Regions from separate parts of the Homo sapiens genome. Here all the other regions are linked to region 1. The links come from fine-mapping of genetic effects on plasma protein levels. A gene starts in region 1. Each other region holds a variant in brackets. All regions are shown on one strand. Distances are between the middles of the regions.

Evidence for each region. PIP is the chance, under the fine-mapping model, that this variant and not a neighbour inherited with it causes the effect. The UK Biobank Pharma Proteomics Project read protein levels with antibody pairs (Olink). The fine-mapping took linkage between variants from a reference panel, not from the people measured, so its PIPs are less certain.
Region 2: its variant is fine-mapped to the plasma level of the FABP9 protein (UK Biobank, PIP 0.96).
Region 3: its variant is fine-mapped to the plasma level of the FABP9 protein (UK Biobank, PIP above 0.99).

Annotation. Positions count from the first base shown.
Region 1 is chr8:81,458,640-81,466,811 of GRCh38, forward strand. It overlaps FABP9 (fatty acid binding protein 9), which reads right to left and starts at 2,940. Exons shown (of 4, transcript NM_001080526.2): 1 at 2,812-2,940; 2 at 526-698; 3 at 1-64. The coding sequence starts at 2,884. It overlaps LOC101927118 (a long non-coding RNA gene), which reads left to right and starts at 2,819. Exons shown (of 9, transcript XR_001745980.2): 1 at 2,819-3,335.
Region 2 is chr8:81,907,640-81,915,828 of GRCh38, forward strand. The region is part of intron 7 of LINC02235 (long intergenic non-protein coding RNA 2235); the gene reads left to right. Among named protein-coding and RNA genes, the nearest start is that of LINC02235, 69 kb to the left of the region's middle. The variant A/G (reference allele first, on the strand shown) is at 4,522.
Region 3 is chr8:81,495,939-81,504,127 of GRCh38, forward strand. All of the region lies in intron 1 of LOC101927118 (a long non-coding RNA gene), which reads left to right. Among named protein-coding and RNA genes, the nearest start is that of FABP4, 17 kb to the left of the region's middle. The variant G/T (reference allele first, on the strand shown) is at 4,518.

The DNA of each region.
Region 1 (8,172 bases):
TTGTCTCTTTGCCAAGCCATTTTTGGACGTGAATCATTGAGCCATTCTCTAATGTTATGGTGCTCTATAAATGCATAAAGAAATCAGAAGTAGCAACTCACTACCTTCTAACCTACATGAGACCACATATCTACTTTTTAATTTCTATTTTGAAATTCTTTTCTTAAAATCCTCACTTTTGTTGTCATGATGTAGTACTATCAAACTAGAAGTCTCAAGAGATTATTCAATTAGTGCTCTTTCCTAGGCAAACAATGCATAAGCTATTTGTGTTTAGTTGTTTCTTTCTATGTGCTCTTTCATATGACAAAGAGATAAGAAAAAATGAAATGAAAACAATTTGAATCTTTTAGCCCTATTGTTAACCATCAAAATAATTAGCAAAAGGATTAACTTTAGAGATGTGCGACTATTAACAGAACAAGCCCAGACAGACTTGGTGATAAATCAAATTACAGTAAACCATGCCTAACCACCTTCTAACTTTTTCCTGATTGTTGAACACCAGGAAGAATTAGTTCTGACCTTTACTTTCCGGTTGTCTGCTGTAGTTTCATCAAATTCTTCCCCCAGCTTGAAGGAGATCTTAGTGTCCTGGAAAGAACTTTCTGTTCTTATGGTCATCATTTTCCCATCAACACTAATAGTTACTGTCGGTTTCACTAACCCTGCCATGTTCCGGGCTGCGAAATTCACTCCTACAAGACAGAGATAGCCTTGGACCTTATTAAGACATTGTTAACAATCACTCTGGAAGTCAATTTTCAAAGAATGCTTACTTTACCTATTTTGAAATTTTGGATAATGTATAGTAACTTATTTTATGTTTTCTGTGATATCAGGGCTGAGCTAGATCCTCCCAGTCATAAGGTATATATGTGACATTTTGAAAAGCTAAATTCACTCTCTGAGACTATTACACTTCCTCTAAAATGTAAATTTGTATGGTGCCTTTCAAGAGATCAAATGCTTGCACTTCACCTTGTGGAGTGTTACGATAACCTTGTGGGTGCGGGAGGAGTTTGACTTAGAGCCTGGCCCTGTGGTTTGGTTGGGAATTTCCCATTGTCAAACTTGACTCCTGCAGTTGGTGGGCAGAAGAGCTGACTCCTTCTCTGTCCTGATATCAAACTCCATTTCACATTTAGATTGTGGAACTGATATGACACATCTTACTGTAGAGAAGCAGTGTTAGACATCTGCATCACAAAGAAGAGTGAGATGGTTAAAACCCAGGCTCTAACTTGGCCACTTGCTAGCTTGGGCATATTATTTACCTCTCCTAACCTTCAGTTTTCTCAATAGTAAAGTGTGGATAACTGTATACTTGACCTCGCAAGTTTTTTTTTTGTTTGTTTGTTTGTTTGTTTTTTGTTTTGAGACAGAGTCTCGCTATGTTGCCCAGGCTGGAGTGCAGTGGCACAATCTCAGCTCACTGCAACCTCTGCCTCCCAAGTTCAAGCGATTCTCCTGCCTCAGCCCCCCGAGTAGCTGGGATTACAGGCACATGCCACCATGCCCAGCTAATTTTTGTATTTTTAGTAGAGATGGGGTTTCACCATGTTGGCCAGGCTGATCTCGAACTCCTGACCTCAGGTGATCCACCTGCCTTGGCCTCCCAAAGTGCTGGGATTGGAGGCCTGAGCCACTGTACCCAGCCAGCGGATGTTTTAAAAGGTTAAATGAAAGGGGTTAGCATGGTACTGGCACATAGAAACTGCTCAGCTGTTATTCTTGCTTGTATTATGCCTAAACCCAGCTCCCAGTCAACACAAGTGCTACTCTGGCCATAAGGCCCAAGTTTTTTATATACCCCCCCAATTTTTATTCAAAACAAGTGAGTCTATAAATCTATGAAGAGACAGAAAAACTTGTTTCTTATGACCCTCTGAGAAAGTGAATATTGACTACATCAGAGGAACAAATATTACATTTATAAGCACATTGACTTATTATGGGGATAAGGCATTGTTATTTCATTGTCTAGAATGAGTAAACATAATTAATAATTGTAAGCATCCATTAAGCATGTTATGTAAGTTAAAAAAAAGTAAAGATAAGAAAGTCCTTGGCTTTGTATACAGTTTACTACAAGGGAGGTTTCTCTTAATTAAATATGAAAAATATGAAATAATTGCTGTTCTTCCATTAGTAAAGAACAGTTTAGCTATTATACACCCAAGTCATTATAATTAATGTGTAACTAAATGACTTGAGTTAGAGATTAAAGGATTGGTAGGGTTTATAATTCTGAGGAATATCCAGTGGTGAGACATTCAATGAGTAAAAATGTTGTGTTTCTTCAGATTTGTAATTCTTCAAAACCATGTTTATAAAATATCTCTCACATTTATGAGAACTCTAAAAATTAACCAACTAGAAATTTTGTTAGTTGATACTGCTGTTTTAAAGCTATAACTTAAACCTTGAAACAAATTTAATTGATCAATTTAATTGTAGGTAGTGATTACTGTCTATAAATTTGAAGCTGGGAAAAATGTTATTAAATGAAATGACCAAGCTAAAATGAAATTCTATCTAGAAGTTAGGTGAAGTATTTTCAAAAAGGATAAATGGGCTTAAATATATGGATCATGACTGGACAGAGGTGTCTGTGGGCCTAGTCTTCCAAAAAGAGACAATTATTACTAGTAATTTAAAAAAGCAAAAGTAGAAGCATACATTGTGTTAGTCTATATACCCTAGGATCACAAAAGGAAGATAATTGTAGGAAAATTCATGGTAAAGTACAAACCCAATCACATCACAAAATGCTTTGCCAATTTCCAAATTTGTAATGGTATTTCTCACCCAGTTCTTTCATGTAATCCTCAAAGTTTTCACTGGAGACCAGCTTCCAGGTTCCCAAGAAGGGCTCAACCATCATGGAACACTTGCTGAGAAGAGCCACTCGTAATTGAAAACCAAAGAAATATAGGCATTACGGTGCTGCCAGTAGTTTAATTTAAAGAGCGTCTTCATCACGTGACTCTTCTGAAATGGCCAATGGGCAACAGCAGCAAGACTAAAGATTCTAGGCACCAGCATTTGACTCATTTTATTTACCTCCAAATTAAGAGACAGAAAATTAGCATGTAAAATTAAATTCTGGTCAATGATTTTAGCTTCTAGCAAAAAGATTTACACCCAAGTCACCTGACAAATATTACTTGTGGAACGGAGACAATCTTCAATAGACATCAGCTTTTTGAACAATGAATACTGAGTCAACCCTGGAGGAATATCCTGACAAATTGATAAACACCTGGCTGAGATGTTTTCCTACCTAAGACAAGAAATCCTTGCTTGGTCCACCTCAGCTGTTTTTTGTTTGGGTAAGTCACAGTGCTCAAACATCCTCTTCATTAAAATAATATCTTCCCTTCCCTTCCTTACAGGGTTGATGGGTTGATATTAGTTAATGTAACTAAAATGCCTATAATTGCTTGGAGGGAAATGGAGGGTATTATTAATATATTATCATTGTTGTTAATCGAAGGTAATTGAGGACAGGAAAGAAAGGTGACAATTATCATTGGATAATAGTATATGATTTAAGCTCTGAAAAGGAAGCAGAGCGAATGCCTACAAAATTCGTCTTTCAGGCTTACAAAGTAAACTCTACATTAAAAGATATTTTAAATTATAAGAAAAAATTTTGGCAAGTTTCATATAGAAAAAGATGTTTGGAATCTGCATTCTAAAAGAAAGACAAAGGCAGCAAATGGTTTCAATCTCTGTGCCATTACTTCTGAAACCATCTTCTGCAACCCCAATAATGGAAGTGGACTTTGCAGGTACTGAGTTTAGTAAGAAGGAGTAGATTCAGTAGCTGTTGATTTACATTACGGTTTTGAACTCCAGTTAACTTTAGAAGATGTTGGAAAGTTAGTGTCAGGGACCAGAAGAAGAATATTTATATTTTTACCTGCTTTGTATGAAGTATTTATTTAATTCAGAAAATATTGTTTGTGAACAAAATAAACAGGAGGTTGATATTTTGGTACTGTAAAACAATAACTTAAGTGGAATAAAGGATGGCTTTTGATGAAAACATATAAAGAAGAAACATATAATGTGATATCTTTATGGGTGGGACAATTATTAAATTATCTACAGTGCAAAACAGGGTAAGTGAAAATCCTGGAGTTAATTTCAGGAAACTAAGACCCAAGCTCAAAATAAGTGCCTCAGCAGTTGAAAGTGCATTCAGAGGTGATGTTCAAATATAGAGCAAGTTGTTAAACGTTTGCTTAACTGGTTCGAGATGTGTATGCACTCTCTGCTTTAAAGAAAGCAAGCATACATTGCTATGCCTGTTGGCCAGCTGGGTAGTGTAGCAAAGGTCTCCCATCAGCATAATCTTCCTTGTTGTTTTGATTCTCCTGTCATAGAATGATATTCCTGTGGTCCGTTTAGAACTCAGTTGGCCCATGAGACAAAAGCTAACATCAGATTTCTGGTTTCAATTATCCTCAGCAAACTAACGCAGGAAGAGAAAAACACCTCATGTTCTCACTTATAAGTGGGAGCTGAACAGTAAGAACACATGGACACAAGGAGGAGAACAATGCACACTGGAGCCTGTTGGGGCCAGGGCTATGGGGGGAGGGAGAGCATCAGGATAAATAGCTAATGCATGTGGGGCTTAATACCTACGTGATGGGTTGATAGGTGCAGCAAACCACCATGGCACACATTTACTTATATAACAAACCTGTACGTTCTGCACATGTATCCCAGAACTTAAAATAAAATAAAATAAAAATTCTGGCTTCTGTAAAATTCCCCACCCCTAGGAGAGAACCAAAGGGAGAGACAGTCTCTCTTTTGCCTCTACACATTTTTCTATCTCACGTGATATTTACAAGTGCTGCATCCATTGTGTTACCTCCTCAAAGATGGGGCCAGAACTGAGGATAGCAGAGCAGAAACGTGGAAGGAACTGAAGGCCACTTTATTTCAAAAATTTATATTATGTTAGTTAATAAATTCCATTCTTATTTAAACAGTTTTGTCTCTGAGCTTTTGTTACTTGTAGAAGAAGTCTTCATAATTACTACGCCTTTGTAAATAGCTTCACCAAATGGTGAATTTGGACCTTCACAACAACCAGTTGCATGAATCACATAGAGCTGGCCTCATGACAGCAGAGACCCATCTTCCTGAACCAACTCAAACATCTCTTTCCCTGTGACACTGGTTCAGAGCTAGATAATCCCCATGGCGTGAAGATAGAAATAAATGTTTAAGAGAAGTATATTAGCTTATTTCATAGTACTGCAAAGAGCTATTTCCCAGCTGTCTCCTGAGCTATTCTATGAGTATATCAAAAAAAGAAAATATTTTCCACTCACTTCTGTATCCTTAAGACAGTATCTGGCATATCATAAGTGTTCAATAAATGTTTTATGGATGAGTGACCAAAGAAATAAGTAGTATTTTTTTTAACTGGTAATTCTCATTAGTGTTCTTTATCTCTCTAACAGTGACTAAAGACAGAGTTTTAGTACATTATCTTCTCCTGACCTGGTCCTATGACAGGCCTTTTATTCTGGTCATTATCAGATGGTGGAGGGATGCTCAGACTCTCTTCATCTTTCTCAGTTATATAGCACAAGTCTCCCTTCTCAACTAAGAAAGTTCTCTGCTATTTCTGTTGCTACCACCGCTAGCCTTTGGCACTTTGGTTTGATTATATAAAAAAAGTGAACACCATTTCCTCAAGTAGAAAAAAAATTTTTAATCAGATTGTTCCTAATGTTAATCCTAGTAAAGGAACTAGAATACTGTAGTTTGTTATAGAATAGTTACATGTCTTGTTCTTATGACAGTTTCAAGGCTCATTTCTCCAATATGTCATTTTTCTATGAACTTTCAGCATCTCATTTTCTATATTGATTTTCTTGTGACATTTTAAGACATCAAGTAGTTTTGAATAATTTTTAATTTTGAGATGCTATGGTTGCCACTGATGATGGATACTGGTAAAGTTAAACATATACTGGAAGCTACACAAGTATTCAGAAATATGTCTGATAATTTATTGTTGCACATATAGTACTTTAGCTGGATTTGATAAAGCATCTAAGATTCTTATTTCCACATGCAGTGACACCTCTAAGTATCATATTCCTTACTGTGTTCATCATTCAATTTCAATTTTAAAGATGCAATAATATAATGACTTTTCAAAGTGTACATTTAATCTAGGACTCTGAAAAGTAATTATTTAAAATTTTTCTTTTTAAGACGATATTATATTATCCAATAAGGAAAACAAGTATTTTGAAATTAACTTTGGTTAATAGTCTGAATGTGATATTTGTCATTGAAATAGTCTTCCATTTGCTAGTATTTTCTACACTAGAGGAATTGATGTTATAATTTCAAGAGACTATTTGCTTAACATAAAAGATATATTTTTTTAAAACATCACTTTTTCCAATAATTTTTTTATATATGGGGCTTATAAGAGAATTTTTACATTGTTTTTACTTCTGGATCACTTCACTTATAATAAAAATTTTACTTAAAACAACCATACCAAATTAACTCTGAGCAAGTAATTGTTTTAATATGACAACTTCCAGTTTATTTTTACTAGTTACAAAATAAGTCCATCTCTTATCTATTATTTACTGCTTAATAGGTATATATAAAAATAGCAATTTCTTTCTTTTGTTTTTGGTGAAGGTTATTTATTTGAAGTGCTCACTATTTAAGAGCATATGGAGGCGGCTGACCACCTTGAAAATTCACCTGTAGTAGGACTGTTCCTTTTTTTTTTTATTTTTAATTTTACGTTAAGTTCTGGGATACATGTGCAGAATGTGCAGGTTTGTTACATATGTATACATGTACCATGGTGGTTTGCTGCACCTATCAACTGTCATCTAGGTTTTAAGCCCTGAATGCATTAGGTATTTGTCCTGATGCTCTCCCTCCCGTTGGCCCCCACCCCCTGACAGGCCTCAGTGTGTGATGTTCCCCTCCCTGTGTCCATGTGTTCTCATTGTTCAACTCCCACTTATGAGTGAGAACACGTGGTGTTAGGTTTTCTGTTCCTGTGTTAGTTTGCTGAGAATGATGGCTTCCAGCTTCATCCATGTCCTTGCAAAGGACATGAACTCATTCTTTTTTAAGGCTGCATAGTATTCCATGGTGTATATGTGCCACATTTTCTTTATCCAGTCTATGATTGATGGGCATTTGGGTTAGTCCAAGTCTTCGCTAAAAAATAGCAATTTCTTTCTAAGGAGTTATGCATATCATATTTATTAACATGTAAAGAATTTTTAGGCAAATTCATTTTTTGGCAATTGATATTTTCTCTTGTTTCATGCCACCTTCTTCCCCTAACTTTATTCTATTTGGTTGAGGTTTTTTTTGGTTACCTTTTAAATTTGAAATAATTACAAAAACACTTCCCGAACAACACAGAAAACTCCCATATATACTCTTTGCCCAGATTTCACAATTGTCAACATTCCAACACTTTTGTCCCTACCTCTCTCTATCTCTCTCCCTCCCTCCCTCCCTCTCTCTCTTCATAAGAAGCAAGCTGTTTGTTGCTCAGTCATTGAGAGTAAGTTGAGAAATGTTGCCCCACTCCTCTCCAAACAAGGATCTCAATCAGGAAATCAACACTGATGGCAATACTGCTATCTAATCCACAGACCCCACTCAAACCTTACCAATTGTCCTGACAGTTTTTCCTTTTCCTACTAAAAAAAAGGGAAAAAACCCAGCCTTTCTGACCCAGAATCCTGTCCGTGATCATGCGTTGCTTTCAGCCATCATGTCTCTTTAGTCTCCTTCAATCAGGAACAGATCTTTAGTCATTCCTCATCTTTTAGTACTGGAGACACTGGGGAAAAAAATCACTGTTCTAAGCAAGAGGCTGGGTCATCTGCTGAAAACTGACAAGTAATTTTTACATGAAAACTGAGGTCAGTAATGCTTCAGACTTTGAAAGGAGTATATCTAAATCAGAAATTGTAGCCCTTTGATGGCTAGAGTGGGAATTAGGGAAGAGGGGATAGCCAGCTCATTACTTAACCTGATCCTGTGTTTCTAAAGAGGGAGTGACTGGCTTTTTGGACTATTCATATCTGCTTCAAGATATAGGTGGACTCTATGACCACACTGTGGGTTTTGGAGAGGTACTCA
Region 2 (8,189 bases), 450 kb after region 1:
TGATCAAGCAGTTGGCACAGTTCTGAAAGAAGGAAAACAAATAAGATAAGCCTACAGTCAGATAAGTCCCAGCTTTCTGCTTTCAGGCACTTTCTGGACTACAGTGCAGGGTTGGTTATCTCCATCAGAGCACAGTGGTATCATTGAATTAAGCAGACAGAGTCTAGTGTACAGGAAGACTGATGCATCTGGAATTTGTGAACAGAATAACAAAGAGGTTAAAGTTGCATGCAGAAAGAATGTCAAAAAATCTGTATAGGAATCCCGTAGAGTTTGTTGCTAAATACTAAGCTGTGCCTATGTAAAAGAAACTCCCTGAGGCCAGGCAAAAAAACTGCTGGAAAGCTGTAAGTTGAAAAGTTTCTAGAATTCGTACAGGGCCGGGAGACATTTGAGTTTTGGTCAGCTAGAATCAAGAGTCTTTTTGAACACCTGGCCTTTAGGGGAGATGTCAAAGGGGTTATACCTTAGTCATGTGCCTAAATTGTCTTTTTCAACTGAGGTTTTATGAAACATAATATGAATAAGTATTTTCTTAATTCTTTCAAGCTTGGTATAATACCATTCTAAATACATTAGAGAGAAATTAATTCATTATCTACAGCATTGCCTTAGACATTAGGGTTTAATTATCTTGTGGAACACCCATTGAGAGGGAGTATTTTAATACCCTCTCTTCAAAGCTTAAAAACAAGCTTCAAAAGGATCAACTAAATATACTGCCTATCAGACCAAAATCTAGACCCCAGCAATGTAAAATACACACTATCCATCACCTAATCAAAAATTACTAGACCCTAATATTCAGAATTTACAAAGAACTTAAATATATTTACAATAAAAAAAAACCCATCAAAAAGTGGGCAGAGGATATGAACAGACACTTCTCAAAGGAAGACATTTATATGGCCAAAAAACATATGAAAAAAAGCCCAACATCACTGATCATCAGAGAAATGCAAATCAAAACCATGCCAGTTAGAATGGTGATTATTAAAAAGTCAGGAAACAATAGATGCTGGCAAGGCTGTGGATAAATAGTAATGCTTTTAAACTGTTGGTGGGAATGTAAATTAGTTCAACCATCGTAGAAGATAGTATAGTGATTCGTCAAGGATCTAGAACCAGAAATACCATTTGACCCAGCAATCCCATTATTGGGTATATACCCAAAGGAATATAAATCATTCTACTATAAAGACACATGCATACGTATGTTTATTGCAGCACTATTTACAATAGCAAAGACATGGATCCAACCCAAATGCCCATCAATGATAGACTGAATAAACAAAATGTGGCACAAATATACCATGGAATACTGTGCAGCCACAAAAAGGAATGAGATCATGTCCTTTGCAGGGACATGGATGAAATTCAACAAAATTATGTTTTAGGGTAAAGATTTTGTTGTCCATAAGCCATTCTCTTGGAAGGAATTTATGAAGGAAGCCATCTAGAGAGATATGTGGCTTCCTATCTTTGTAGTTATCTGTTTAGAAACAAAAAGGAAGGTAGATTTTGTGTGACTCTGTTCCCAAGCTGAACTTCCCTTTGATATAGTGAGTTTGGTGTCCCAAAATTTTATTTTCCTTTCACAGTCTCAGTGAACTTTTGGGACAATATCAAGTAGTCTATCAAATGTGTATTTTCAGTCCCAGAGAAGGGAAAAGCAGAATAAAAATTATTTAAAGTCCAAGACAATTTACATCTCTCACTATGCATTTAATGATCTAGCTTTTGCCTGTCTTTCAAGTTTCAAATCTAAACCATTTCCTGACATTCCGTTTTCTCTTCAGTTCACTACATGACTCAGTTTATCGCACATACCATGCTATTTCTTATCTCTATATCTCTGTTCATTCTACAGTCTGTGCCTAGAATGCTTCTAACTCTCATCCTATGCAACCTAATTCCTACTTTTAAGTTCCAACCCATGTGTCATCTCCAAGGAACCTTTCTTTATACTTTCCATTCATTTTCCACCCAACAAGAGATAGTTGTACTCTTTGGTGCTTCCAGAAATACTTTTGCATATCTCTAGTGCTGCATTAAGCCATTATATTGCTGAGATCTGTTTTTCAGTCTTTTTTGTTTAATGCTAGAAGGACTATGTGTAATACATGTTTGTATCTCCAGCACTTAGTAGAAGGATTGGCATAAGATTATTTAAAGAATAAATAAGTAATGACTTCATTGATCTGGCTCTGGGTCTAAGGTTGATACACATACCATTAACAATAATAAAATACCATTAACAATAATAAAAATCAAATTTCCCTTAAATCTCATTCATTATGGCTTATATATTTGAAAATAAAAATATATTATAAATAATGAGTCTACATTTAAAATCTGAATATTATATTTTGGTAACTTATTTGTCATATGTATGTATATGGTAGAAATACATGTATTTTTCACTGCACAAAGCTTCAGTAAATAAGTCCAGGAATCCAGATGAGGAATTATGGAATCTATAATTCAAACACTTTCAAATTTTAATATGTCCAAAGAACCTTTGGGAGACTAATTAAAATGTAGTTTACCTTGCCTGATATCCAGAAATTCTGATTCAGTAAATCTAGACAACAGCTTAGAAATTTGCATTAAATAGTAACTACTCAGGAGATTCTGTTGTAAACGATATATAATGTCTGGTAGATACAAATATTTATGATCTATTGATAAAAAATTGATTCTTTAAGTTGTAGTTAGAGAAATGTCATTTAACAGTATATCCTACATTTTCACTTTACTAGATAAGAAAAAATTGAGGTTTAAAAGACCAACATTTACAAAAACTCTCTTCTGAAATAACATACGTTAACTACATTAATTTTAAAGTTCTGAATACATTTCACACTTCAGCAGTTAATGGAGACTGGTATGAACGTTTTCATAGACACAGGAAGAAAAAGCAAGCAGAATAATTCTCTTTATTATATTTTAAAATTTGTTTTCTAAAGAAGAAAACATTGTCTTTAAAATTTTTGTTTGATTTGGAGCACTAGATTCCTGGAGGAACAAATTGTCATTGAAGGCTCATGAATAAAAGGCTGAAGGGAGACTGCTGTAATCTATGTGCTCAGCAGTCGCTACAGTTAAGAGCAAGATTTCCCACCTGATTGCTCCATTCTAAATATTGTATTAACTCAGTTACTTAAGGGTATTTTAGAAAACAAGTTAATGGGCAATCTTGTCATATTATATTATATGCAGCAATCATGCTGCGTTGAATGGCCATATAAAAGAGAAACTTTAGAAAAATTGAGCCAAATTAGAGAATAAGAGAGTTAAAGAGTTGTTTTTACACACAAAGTTACAAGCCATGAAATGTCTTATAGAATATTACATTTGGCCTATGTAATTTTGGCAAACAATTTACTGATGGAATCTCAAAAGTGTATTATTTTGGATAAAAATTTGAATTTAATTCATTCTTTTTGATTATACTAAGTTTCTCACATCATAGTTTACATTGCATATTCACGAGTTCTCTGAGAAAGCCACTTATCTACTTTTCCACCAATCCATCTATTTATAAATTTAATATTTAAATGTATTCATGTTAGAAATGCAAAATGCTTGTTTCTTGGTGCTGCAAAGAAATAGCACTCGAACATAAATTTAATTCTCTCAGCAAGGCAATTTTTACTTCTATAGAAGGGTGCGACTTGTGAATGGAGTAATGGCAAGAGCATACCTGGACAGGGGAGGGGAAAGAGTTCTTATTCCTGATGCAGGTAGCCCCTACTGCTGTGTTGTTCCCCTATTGGCTACGGTTGGATGGCACAGTCTAAGCTAATTCTGATTGGCTATTTTAAAGAGGTCAGGGGTATGAGCCAGAGTGGTGGGGTGAGTAGTTTGGTGGGAAGGACGTTTAGGAACAGGTAACTAGAGGTGACTTAGGTCAGAGCAGGTGACCAGGAGTGACTTAGGTCAAAGCAGCTGATCAGGATGAGTCAGGATGGAGCAGGTGACCAGGGAACAGATGTGAACTACTAATTAGGACTGGTGGGAAAGTTGTTTACTGAAATTAGAAGCAAGGGAGCGAACAGAACCAGGAAGTTAAACTTTAAAATGGAGAATAAAAGAATAACAGAGCTGAACATATGAAGAGTAACTTGGGGTTCATTATATTTAACATTCACAAAACTTGGAAATGAAATTCTCCAAGAAGATGGTATTTCAATTCTAAAGGGTCCTAAAACCCATATCTCAATATAGACCAGGTGTGGTAGAATCTTGAGTCATTTTCAGTCAGGTCGATTCTACTCTCTATTCCTCAAAAGGCCAGATAATTCCTTTCTTGGATCAGACTACTGAGGGTCTCATTGGATATCTGATTCATGGGTCAGCAGATATGGAATATGTAATTGCCACCATAAAAATTATAGAAAAGAGGAAAACAAATGTCAATTTGAACATAAAAATGAATATTAATGGCCCATTGAAACCAATATAATATTGAACCACATGATTCCATCACCCCCATTTTCCATGCAAATCTCTATGTCA[A/G]TCTTTTTTGATTCATGTAGGTTTTCATATTCCTTTTCTTTTTTTAATACTTTATTCATTATGGGAATTGATTTAAATTTATTTTTATTAAAATATGCTTAATAAAAATTTAAATCACTTATAAGTAAACTCTTTTTTAAACTTTTAATTTTTAGTTTTAGATTCAAGGAGTACATATTTATGATTGTTACATGGGTACATTGCCTACTAGTGGGGACTGGCCTTCTAGTGTACCCATTACTCAAATAGTGGGCATTGTAACCCGCAGGTAAGTTTTCAATCCTCACCCTTACTCCCACCCTCCTTCCTTTTGGAGTCCCCGGTGTCTATTATTTCCACGTTTATGTCCATGACTTACAAGTAAACTCTTAAAATATGTTCACCCTGAAGGAAAGTAGAGTATCTCACCCCAAAATATACTTTTTTGGCATATTTTGAGATGGATATTCAGAGGGGCTACAGACAAAGGAATAGTTCTGAAGAGTTGTCCTTTTGTGGAGGAGATTTACATCTGTAGAGGAAATCTACATTAGCGAAGTAAACAGTAGATGCGAACAGGATTTCTCTGAGACCTTATCTACATTATCTTGATCTAGGAAAGATTAACTTAGGAAAAAGAGACACTTTTGAAGTTCTAACAGAGAAACTTTCACTATAGGCTATTATCTAATCTGAGAGCTGCTACCTGAGAGATTTCATTTGCATAACAAGATACTTTTTGCTTGATATGCAATTCCTCCCCTCTCCCTCCCATAACTGATCTCCATGTTCCAAGCCTCTATTCCTTTCCATATGGTATTAAAACTTCAGTACTCTCAAAGAAATGTGAGATTTCTTTGAGTCTCATACTTTTGTGTGTGGTCCCCATGCCTATGCATACAATGAGTTTTGTTTTTCTCCTGATAATCTATTGTGCCAACCTAAAATAATCAAAAGAGTCAGAATCTAATTTAAAGAGAGTTTATTCAAGTGCAGAATTTAAGGATAGCCTTCTTGGAAATACCAACTTCTAAGGGATGGAATTAGAATTCAGAAGTAGGAAAGTTTAGGTTTCATTTAGATAGGCAGAGGGAGATGAGTTTTAGCAGGATTACAACATTTTACATACAAGGCTAGAGCATAATTACAGCAATGTGATTGGTTACAGATGGTTTTTCTTTTGGGGAAGGGTATATTTAACACTTTTTACGGAAGGCATAATAGTCATGGGTTTTCTGTCATCTGGTCTAAGCAAAGCAGGACAACAAATGAGAAATTAATCTGTAACAAGGGTCACTAAAAGGCAGAGGTTTGTGTCCCTGATATCATTTAATTCTGTCTAGTCACTGTGAAGAAAAAGATAAATAAGAAAGTGAGTTAATTTATAATCTGAGAAATAGAAGTTGTAACCATATGTGACTCAGATCACAGTCACATCTTTCTTAAGGCTTAAAGTGTTTTGGGGGTTCCAACAGCTTTTAAATTGTGTTTATTTTCAAAATTGTCAAATAATTTCAGCAGACTTAGACTCAAATTTTCAGAGGCAAAGTTTCAACTTCCCTAAAACCCTTAGTTTTGCCTTTCCCATGCACTGGTTAATTGTGGTTTATGCCTAACTACCTCCTGTATCAATCTTGAGTTTTAGAGAATGTTTCCAGAAGGGATTAAGGCACCTTTGAATTCTATTTAGTACTGGTCCAACAGATCGTTAATTACCCTTTCCTTATTTTTCTTTGTAGGACCAATAATCATCCTTTTCTTTTGATGCCTGGTTTATATATTTGAGCTCAGCTCTAGTAAAATCTACCTGCCACTCTTACTCTTTTATGCATAAATCTTTGTTTTGAGCTGTGTAGCAGCTTGCTTAAACATGGTGGCTTTGGAATCAGACTGCCTTGGTTTAAATCCCTATCCTATCACTTGCTAGGTATGAACAATTTAGATATCCTTTCTAAGTATTGGTTTAAAAATCTATAAAATGAGGATTCTTTGAGGTTTAATTGAGATAGTAGAGGCAAAATACCTGGCACATAATAAATATTCAATACATGTAATTCATAGTTGATATCATTGCTATTATTATGGTAGGTAACTAGTCATAAATAAGCAGGGCAAGAGAGGCTCCCCATCCCACCAGAAATGTCAGGCAACCATCAGGTGATGGTCAGGTAGTTGTTAAACTGCCTCTCTAAAATAATAATTGGTCACAGCCAGTGCCAGGGAAAGGCAGTCTCCCAATAAACAGAAAAACCTGAAACTGATGATCAGCAGTGCCAGGCCTCTGAGCCCAAGCCTCCACGTATACATCCAGATGGCCTGAAGAAAGTGAAGAATCACAAAAGACATGAAAATGGCTGGTTCCTGCCTTAACTGATGACATTACCTTGTGAAATTCCTTCTCTCCTTGTCTCTACCCTCTCTTTTCTCTCCACTTTCCTGGGGGGCAAGCACCCCCCACCACTTCTCTCCATGTCTCTACCCTTTCTTTTCTCTGGGCTTGCCTCCTTCACTATGGGCAAACTTCCACCCTCCATTCCTCCCTCTTCTCCCTTAGCCTGTGTTCTCAAAACTTAAAACCTCTTCAACTCACACCTGACCTAAACCTAAATGCCTTATTTTCTTCTGAAATGCCTCTTGACCCCAATACAAACCCAACAATAGTTCCAAATAGCCAGAAAATGGCACTTTTGATTTTTCCATCCTACAAGATCTAGATAATTCTTGTTGTAAAATGGGCAAATGGTCTGAGGTGTCTGACGTCCAGGCATTCTTTTACACATCGGTCCCTCCCTAGTCTCTGTTCCCAATGCGTTTCGTCCCAAATCCTCCTTCTTTCCCTCCTGCCTGTGCCCTCAGTCCCAACCCCAAGCATTGCTGAGTCTTTTCAATCTTCCTTTTCTACCGATCCATCTGACCTCTCCCCTCATCCCCAGACTGCTCCTCAGGTCACTCCCCACCAGGCTGAATCAGACTCCAATTCTTCCTCAGATTCTGCTCCTCCACCCTGTAATCCTTCTATCACCTCCTCTCCCCACACCCAGTCTGGCTTACAGTTTTGTTCCACAACTAGCCCTCCCCCACCTGCCCAACAATTTCCTCTTAAAGAGGTGGCTAGAGCTGAAGGCATAGCCAAGGTTAATGCTCCATTTTCTTTATTTGACCTCTCCCAAATCAGTTAGTGTTTAGGCTCTTTTTCATCAAATATGAAAAACCCAGCCTGGTTCATGGCCCGTTTGGCAGCAATCCTGAGATGCTTTACAGCCCTAGACCCAGAAGGGCCAGAAGTCCATCTTATTCTCAATATGCATTTTGTTACCCAGTCAGCTCCTGACATAAAAAAAAAAAAGCTCCAAAAATTAGATTCCAGCCCTCAAACCCCACCACAGGACTTAATTAACCTTGCCTTCAAGGTGTACAATAATAGAGACAGCCAAGTAGCAATGTATTTCTGAGTTGCAATTCCTTGCTTCCACTGTGAGAGAAACTCCAGCCACATCTCCAGCACACAAGAACTTCAAAACGCCTAAGCCACAGTGGTCAGGGCTTCCTTCAGGACCTCCTCCCCCTGGATCTTAATTCAAGTGCCAGAAATCTGGCCACTGGGCCAAGGAATGCCCCCAGCCCAGGATTCCTCCTAAGCCATGTCCCATCTGTGTGGGATCCCACTGGAAATCGGACTGTCCAACTCG
Region 3 (8,189 bases), 37 kb after region 1:
GATTGTGTTTCCTAACATTATGATTTCCAAGACGAAGAGTGTACCTTTGGGACCATCTGTCCTTTTCATAACCCTCCCATGGCTGTGTGCATGATGAAGCTGCCTCCAATCATTAGTATTGCAGAGAGCAAGGAATTCTACCAAGAATAATTTGGTTTGCCCAGACAAAAATATCAATCGTTCTTCAGAGGTATATCGATGAATACAAATGCTTAAAAATGTCTTTTAAAATCTCTGTTAATAATTGCTACTAGTGTTAAATAATAATGAATGAAAATTCTAGGTAGCAACATTTTCATCTAGTGCAAATAAAGAGAACCCCTTGATTATTTCTGAGTAGATTAACACTGCATGTGTGTGTAAAGAATCATGCATTACTTTGACAGAATTGATTTTTTTCAGGATTTCTCTTATGTCCTTTTTTTCTGGGGAAATAATTTAATGTTTTGGCAAAAAAATTGTGGAGTTTGTAAGTTCATTTGTACATTGAAGCCTGTGCTTTTTCATATAATCATTGAAGTTTAACTCTATATTTTTAATATTTGTGTTGCTGCTCCAAGATGTTCTCTGGAATATATTTATATTCTTTAAATTGTCTTAATTATTTATTTCTTAAATTCCGAAAGGAAGGAGTTCTGGCTTAGGGAAAACATCTAATTGGAAATGCTTTTTTCTTTGCCCTAACATGTCCAAATTTTAAAGACTGTATTTCTTTTCCTTTTCTGGTTTAGCCAAAGGAAAGAATCAGAATCCTTTTAATAAGATTATCAGGCAAGACTATGAGCTTAAACATTCCCAGTAATTCCAAAGTGAAATTTCCCTTTTTCCAGGTCCCTCTGGGGTTTTGATTTCTGATTGCCCTGGAACTTGGAAGAAGTTATTCTAGCTCTTGCTCTTTTTCCTAGTTGTCTTGCCAAACTCTGCAAATGTAATTCTTACTTTCTCACAAATCAGACCAAGGGACATTGTCCTCACTTCTTTCTGGATGGCTTTTTTTCCCCCTTGCCCTTTGACATACTTCTGAGTTCCTCTGAACTCCAGAACATGGGCTATTTTAAATCAAGTCCATGACACACTGTCAGTTCCCATATTCATGTTTTTTTACTTAAGTAAGCGTATTGCCTTTATTTTAAAATAACCCTTACCACAGAAATAGTAATCCAGAGTATAACACAATTATGTCATAGCTGCAGAAATATCTGGAACATAAAACTTCAGTGAACATATCTTTTTAAAAGTACATTATTTATATTAATTGTTAGATACTTGTCTAATAATATGATTTGGAAGTGCAAATGAAAACATTTAAATATATAGAAGAAGGTATATGATAATTTTACACATAGTACTTAGGCTTTACTTTTTGATATTTTTAAGTTAATTTTTCCAAAATGTTATTTTTCTTTCATGAAGTATAAAGTATATTGTTGTTTATAAATGTACTACTTTTTACTCTTCCCCTAGATTCCTTCAATTACTCAGATTTTATAATGACATCAAGAAAATAATTTTAAAAATCATGGAATTATGCTGCTGTTATTGACCTCCAATGAATTTTCTTTATTTTATGGATGAGAACATAGGGTCCCAGTATGTTATATGGCTTGTTCAAAGTCACATGGATACTGAGTCAACCAGCTTCAAAACAGAGTTAACTTTTTATGTTCTCTTCCATACTGAAAACTTATTTTCTTGGTGTCTTTCTATTTTTCCTAAATTATAGTCTGATGTATACTTTATTGGCAGTTATAATATTCACCCTCTATACTGGACACATTCAAGCATCTACTTAGATTTTCTCGTTGTTGTTTCTTGGGCCTTCAGCTATTTCCTCTGCCCTGGTCTCCACAGCAGCCAAGACGGTAAATCATAAATAATACTGCATTCCTAAAAGGATTGTATTGGCATCACCACCAAAGATTTTAAGAATGCAGAGACTGTGGTCCTTATCCTATTCTTATTCCATTTACCTGTCTAGCCCCTGACAAAAACTAAATAGATCATGGCAGATGGTGACAAACTACCATCAACTTAACCAGATGAACTCGCCAATCTAAGCTGATGTGCCAGATGTGATACCTTTACTAGAGTGCCAAGCACATTCGGAGAGCCAGGTGAGCAGGCACTCTTGGGTGGGCCTCTTATGCAGGTAGCAGGATCTCTAGGACAAGGCACACTTGGGACTTGACCAGGAGTCTGATTAACAACATGAGGCCAGCCACTGGGGTAAGACAGTGGCTTTCACCCTGGATCTATTACACAAAATAGGCACCGGGTCCCCAAAACAAGAAGAAAGCCCAATTACCAGAACTGGGACATTAATGCCTTGGAGCCTGGGCTGCAAGATCAGAGGGCGAGATGAGGCTGTCTCTGAGCAAGGACTCAGTGAAACTTGGGCTTCCCCAGGACAGGGCTTGTTCCAGAAGTAGAGGCAAGGCTAAGACTCCAGAAAGGATGGAGTGGCCTCAGCCATGGCGGGGGGCACTCTGAGTGACCAGGGCATAAACAGGTCAAAATACCATGCACAGTTCCACCCTCTGTCCACTGACTTAACTTTTAAGGTCATTTTTTTCCTGTGTATTTCTTCACACATGAATTTTATTTCAATATCTATCTTCTAGTTTTCTTTGTGAGCCTCATTGTTGAAGAAGAAATTTTCAGACAGAAAAAAATAAACAACTTTTGGTACCTCCTTTTTGCTCTCTCTGCTAATAAAAATACTGCCCAAGAACCCCCTGCAGGTCATTTGCTAGTAGCAACAGCCATAACTTTTTACTTAACAACCCTTCTGAAAACTTGGCATCATTTTTTCATTCATGTATTTATATACCAATAATTTATTCATTCAACAAATGTTTACTAAGAGCCTACTGAATACAAAGTGCCTACTCTGAAGTCAGACAGACCTTTTGTCTAACATTAACTGGCTGTTTTTTATGGGTGGAACCTATTTCTTAACATGGCAGAAGGATTAAGTGGCATAATTCACATAACTCATAAAGCATAGAAGCTTGCCACAGTAATTAGCAATCATTGAATAGCTATTATTACTTTTACTCTTATTAATATTAATAAGTATTAATATTAATGTGAATAAACATTAGGATAAAATAATATTGAAACATGGTTGCAGTCGTTTGTGCAGAATAGACTTTAAAATAAATAAATATAATATAGAGTAATAGGAGCTATGGCACATGTATGTACAAGATTCGAAGAGAAAAGTAATTCTCCTCAGACAGGTCATAGATGCTTTCACATGATGAATCATGCTTTAGTTTAAGGTTGAAAGTTGAAGAGTCTCCCAGACAGTCACGGAAAGCATGTTGCAGGCAGAGGCATGTGTTCGTGCTATTTGAATCAGCACAGAATGTAAAGCTGGAAATGTACAAGAGGCCAAATGACAAACGGTCTGAAACCCTTTGCAGAGGAGTCTGGATTTGGTAGGGAAAAATTATTGTGTATGCTTAAAGAGTGTTAATTCCTGGAGAAACAAAAGTTACCTTTTACAAAAATAATTCTAGTAGCAATATGAAAGTTGGAGCTGAAATCAAATTGGGGAAAGGGAAAGATGCAAGCCAGGAAGACATTGCGGGTAAGGCTGGGGAGGAGCTGTTACAGCAGATGAGTTGGGGGGGGGGGGCGTGAATGTCTGCCTGGTTCTGTGCCTTTAAACAGCAAGATACACCAGGAAGAGCCCAGCCCTGTCCCCATAGTCGTCTTCCCCACCCTCATTCTCTCTCTGGCACTGGTGTGTCTAGACGCAAGTAGATGCCATGTTTGGAGGACTGCTTTGCAACTGGCCTTGGAGAGACAACAGCTGAGCCTCACAAATGTGTCATATTCTTTCACCCTGTGCCCATCTTTGGCCAAACCCTTAATGGAGCAGTGTTCCCTAAAGTGAAATACACTGGCCACCTGTTTCAAAAGCACCTGGACAACTTGTTAAAAATGCCTATTTCTAGACATCACCCAGCAATGAGAATCCCTTGGAGTTGGACATGAAATCTGCACTTTTTACAGTCTCTCAAGGGGAGACTGATGTTAAGAAGCCCTGCAAGAGGGCACTAGACAAGTCTTTCTGAAACAGAACTAATCATGTAACCGGCAAGGGTAACTTTTAAAAAATAGCCTTTAAGATCCCATCCCTTTAGAGATCTGGAGGCCTAGGGTCAAGCAGGGAGTCCTGACACAGCAAGAGCACACCTGGAGCTGGATACTTAGTCAGATTTAGGAACAATTGCCCAATGTTGTCATCCTGATAAATTACCCTTCTACTGCTTGAATGCATGAAATAATTAGTTCACAAACCTTTCCTGGTGTAATTACAAAGGGATAGCTGAGTTGTAATTTTATTGAATTGCTACAGAAAGATTTTGAAAAACAAAGAGGCTAAGATGAAAGGTCTTAATTAGCTGTAAGAAGGTCCATCTCACAATTTATTGCTATTAGGAGGTGGCCTTGAGGAGGAACAACTATAGATGGCCACAGCACTTATTAACTTTGTGCACTGCAAG[G/T]TGTGCATTACGGGGAACAGCACCTGACATGGGACGAAGAATTCCCTTTGATCTAATCACTTGCATCAGGCACTTTTCCAGCTCCTCTCTCATTTGCCTCAGAAGTCAAGGGGGAACTCCCTTTAACCATGTTATGCCTGTGTTTCCAGTTCAGAAAGCAAGGATCATCATTTTTCCATTGCTCACTTGCTAGGAAATGTGGAGTTCATTGAGCCTAAAAAGGATCTAACATAATCATGGACCTGCTTGGGAGGTAGGGGTAGGAGTTCGGGCAGAGGAAGAATTTTGGATGAAGCTGCTTACACAGATGAGAGTTATCAATTCCACGCTCATGTTTCCCAAACCTGGTGCCACATCAACCACTTAGCATAAAACCACAGCAACAAAACAGGTTGCTGGGCCTTGTGTACGGTATTAGAATCTAATGACTGCTATAGAGATTAAAATGAGATTAAGGAGTTGAGGTGGAAAATCCTGCAGAAACAGAGCATTATACCACTTAAAGTCTATCTGGCTCCACTGTTTATTTTTTCCTGGTTTCATGACTCCTCCATGATTGTGCCTATTCAAGCTCTTTGCTCAATAAGAAACTCTGTTGAATGTATTCAAGGGAGATTTTACTGGTTTGTGAGCTGGGATGATGAAGGGACGGTCTTGAAATATCTTTCAAATGAATAATGGTATCAGCCCAACGTTTTTGCTTTAATTCACCATGGTGGGACAGATAGGTAGGCTTCCAGCAAGAAATCTTTCAGAACTTGCAAGTAGGAAAGAGGATGATCATCATCTATAATGAAATGTGAGCCTTCCCATTCATTCCTCTTGTTTATACACGTTCATAGAAAGAGAATAGCACAAGAATATGACTGACTGATCCGTTCTACCTCCAATGAGAACAAGAGGAGAATTACCTTTGAAGCCCACACCTGCCAGTAATAGTGTTTCTCACCCATTTGGCTGGGAAATTCCAGGAGGATCTTCAAAAGACAAATGCCACTGCAAACTAGATGTACTTAGTCCAGAATTATTAGGGAAGGGCCAACTCCATCCAGAGAGTAGGAAAGACTTCCCTGAGAAAGTGTCACTGAGCTAAACGTAGAACGATGAATATATACAAGCTTGCCAGGTGGAGGAGGAGAGAAAGGACAATGTAGGGACTGACCAGAAGGAAAAGAAGTTTGAGAAGGCTGGCAAGGAGGCGGGGCAAGTGCATGGGCAGAAATAAGAAAAAAAAACCTAGTGCTGAAAGTGTGCGGGAGGGTGGAGATCAGGGCTTGAGGTGTCATTCTTTGGGGACAGGCGATCTTGTAGCTGTAGGTCATGCTAAGGAGTTTGTCCCTCAGCAACAGGGAAGTCATCACATATTGCCAGCGGGAAAATTTATTTAGAAATCTGGTTAAAGTTTTTTTGTTCTTGTTTGTTTGTTTTTTGAGATAAACTGTTGCTCTGTCACCCAGGCTCGAGTGCAGTGGTGGGATCTCAGCTCACTGCAACCTCCATCTCCCGGGTTCAAATAAGTCTCCTGCTTTAGCCTCCCTGAGTAGCTAGGACTACAGGCACCCACCACGAAGCCCAGCTAATTTTTGTATTTTTGTTGAGCGGGGATTTCACCATGTTGGCCAGGCCGGTCTCAAACTCCTGACCTCAGATGATCCGCCCTCCTGGGCCTCCCAAAGTGCCGGGATTACAGACGTGAGCTACTGTGCCTGGCCTGGTTAAAGTTTTAACAAGGTGATTTCTAGTTGCAGAGTGGTTTAGTTTAAGGAGCAACGGGCAATTGTGACTAGGAGACCAAATTAGAAGGCTACTGAAATCATCTTCAAAAAAAAAAGAAGAGAGAGAGAGAGCTTTGTGCAGTGGCAGAACATAGCCATTGAGGTTCATCTGAGGTGTAATTATTGCTAATAAAAAAAAAAATGAAGACAGGGAGAATTAGGATGGGGATGAAGCAGCACCAGAAGTTAAAGCAAGTTGACTACAGTCACACAGAGAGGCTTCTTGACTTGCAATCCTGTGATTTTTTTCATGCTCTCCTCTCTTTATTACTGCATCATAATTTGCTATCATTTGCTGTTTTTAAATAATATATGTCCTCTTATCTCCCACACCCACAGCAGTCTCCCTTCTCTGAAATACCACTGCCCTCATCACATTCTAACTTCCAACGTTTGTAAGCTAGTTTGAGATAGGATTTGCTTCCCTGCTTTAAATCCAGCTTTGGATGTAGCTGCCTATCTCTCTGCATAGGATCCAAAAAAACACATTAAGTGGGATGCTAAAGCAAAATACATTCTTCCTGGACTCAAATTTTTGCAGAACTTTTCAAATTCCTGGGCAATGATGGCAGGCCTCCATTTTTCAGCTGTGAAAGAAATTTTGAAAACTAGGAAAACAGGTAATGAATACCAGTGATGAGATAAATCAAATATTTGTCAATTTATCAGGATTATTCTTAACGTAGGAATATGGCACAGGATGTTCCCTGGTTATCTATAATATCAAAGCACCATTTTCCAAATGAGATTCCCACATTTGGTGACCATATGAGGGTCTTATAAAAACAATGGAAATCCCAGGCCCTAGCCCACCTACTGAGTCAGACTCCCGAGGGTTTTAGCTCGAAATCTACATGTTTAAAAATCTCTGTAGGTGATTCCTATGCAGTAAACTTATTTTTAAAAATCACTGGACTAAAGACTTAGTCACCGAATTTAACCTCTTCAGATGGTTTGTCCTTAAAATATATTTTTATCTGCAAAATGAGATAATAAAACCTTACTTCCTTAGAATCAAGAGGCTAGATCTGGTGATCTCTTTCTGTACCTCAAGGTTCTAAAATCTGCCATTCAAATATTTATTATCAATCATTACTGATGATTCATTACTGTTTCTGTGTTTACACCATCCCCTTCACCCAAATTCCCCTATAAAGTCTTTTCTCTCATGTAGGATCCATCCCCTCTGTGAAATTGTCCTCAAGTGAGTTTACTCTCTGAGTAAACTCTGCCTCTTCTCCAAATCTTGAGGCATTTTTGGTCCCAACACTGATTTTGCCCAATGCAGCAATTGCTTTGTGGTGACAATCTTTGTTAAGTCCCTGTTATGACTGCCATCGTGAGAGCAAGGACTGTCTTTGTTGATGACCATGATGTTGACCATACTAGGTAAACTATCATTGCAAACAATTTTGTGATCATTTTAATGTGCATAGTCAATCAATGTGAATCAGATCCTCTGAAAAGCCTAATATGCACAGACTTCAAGCTTAGTTTCTGATAGATTTAAACTCATAGGAGTTTGGCTTTCATTAGCTAAATGCAGTTTAATCTCCCATGTCTAGCTCTCTAGACTCTTTAATTAAAAAAAAATGTATACGCCAGGTGTAGTGGCTCATGCCTGTAATCCTAGCACTTTGGGAGGCCAAGGCAGGCAGATCACTTGAGGTCAGGAGTTCCAGACCAGCCTGGCCAACATGACGAAACCCTGTCTCTATTAAAAATACAAAAAAAAAAAAAAAATTTTAGCAGGGTGTGGTTGTGCATGCCTACAATCCCAGCTACTCAGGAGGCTGAGGAACAAGAATCGCTTGAACTCAGCAGGCAGAGGTCACAGTGAGCCAAGATCAGACGCTGAACTCCAGCCTGGGGGACAAAGTGAGACTGTCTCAAAAAA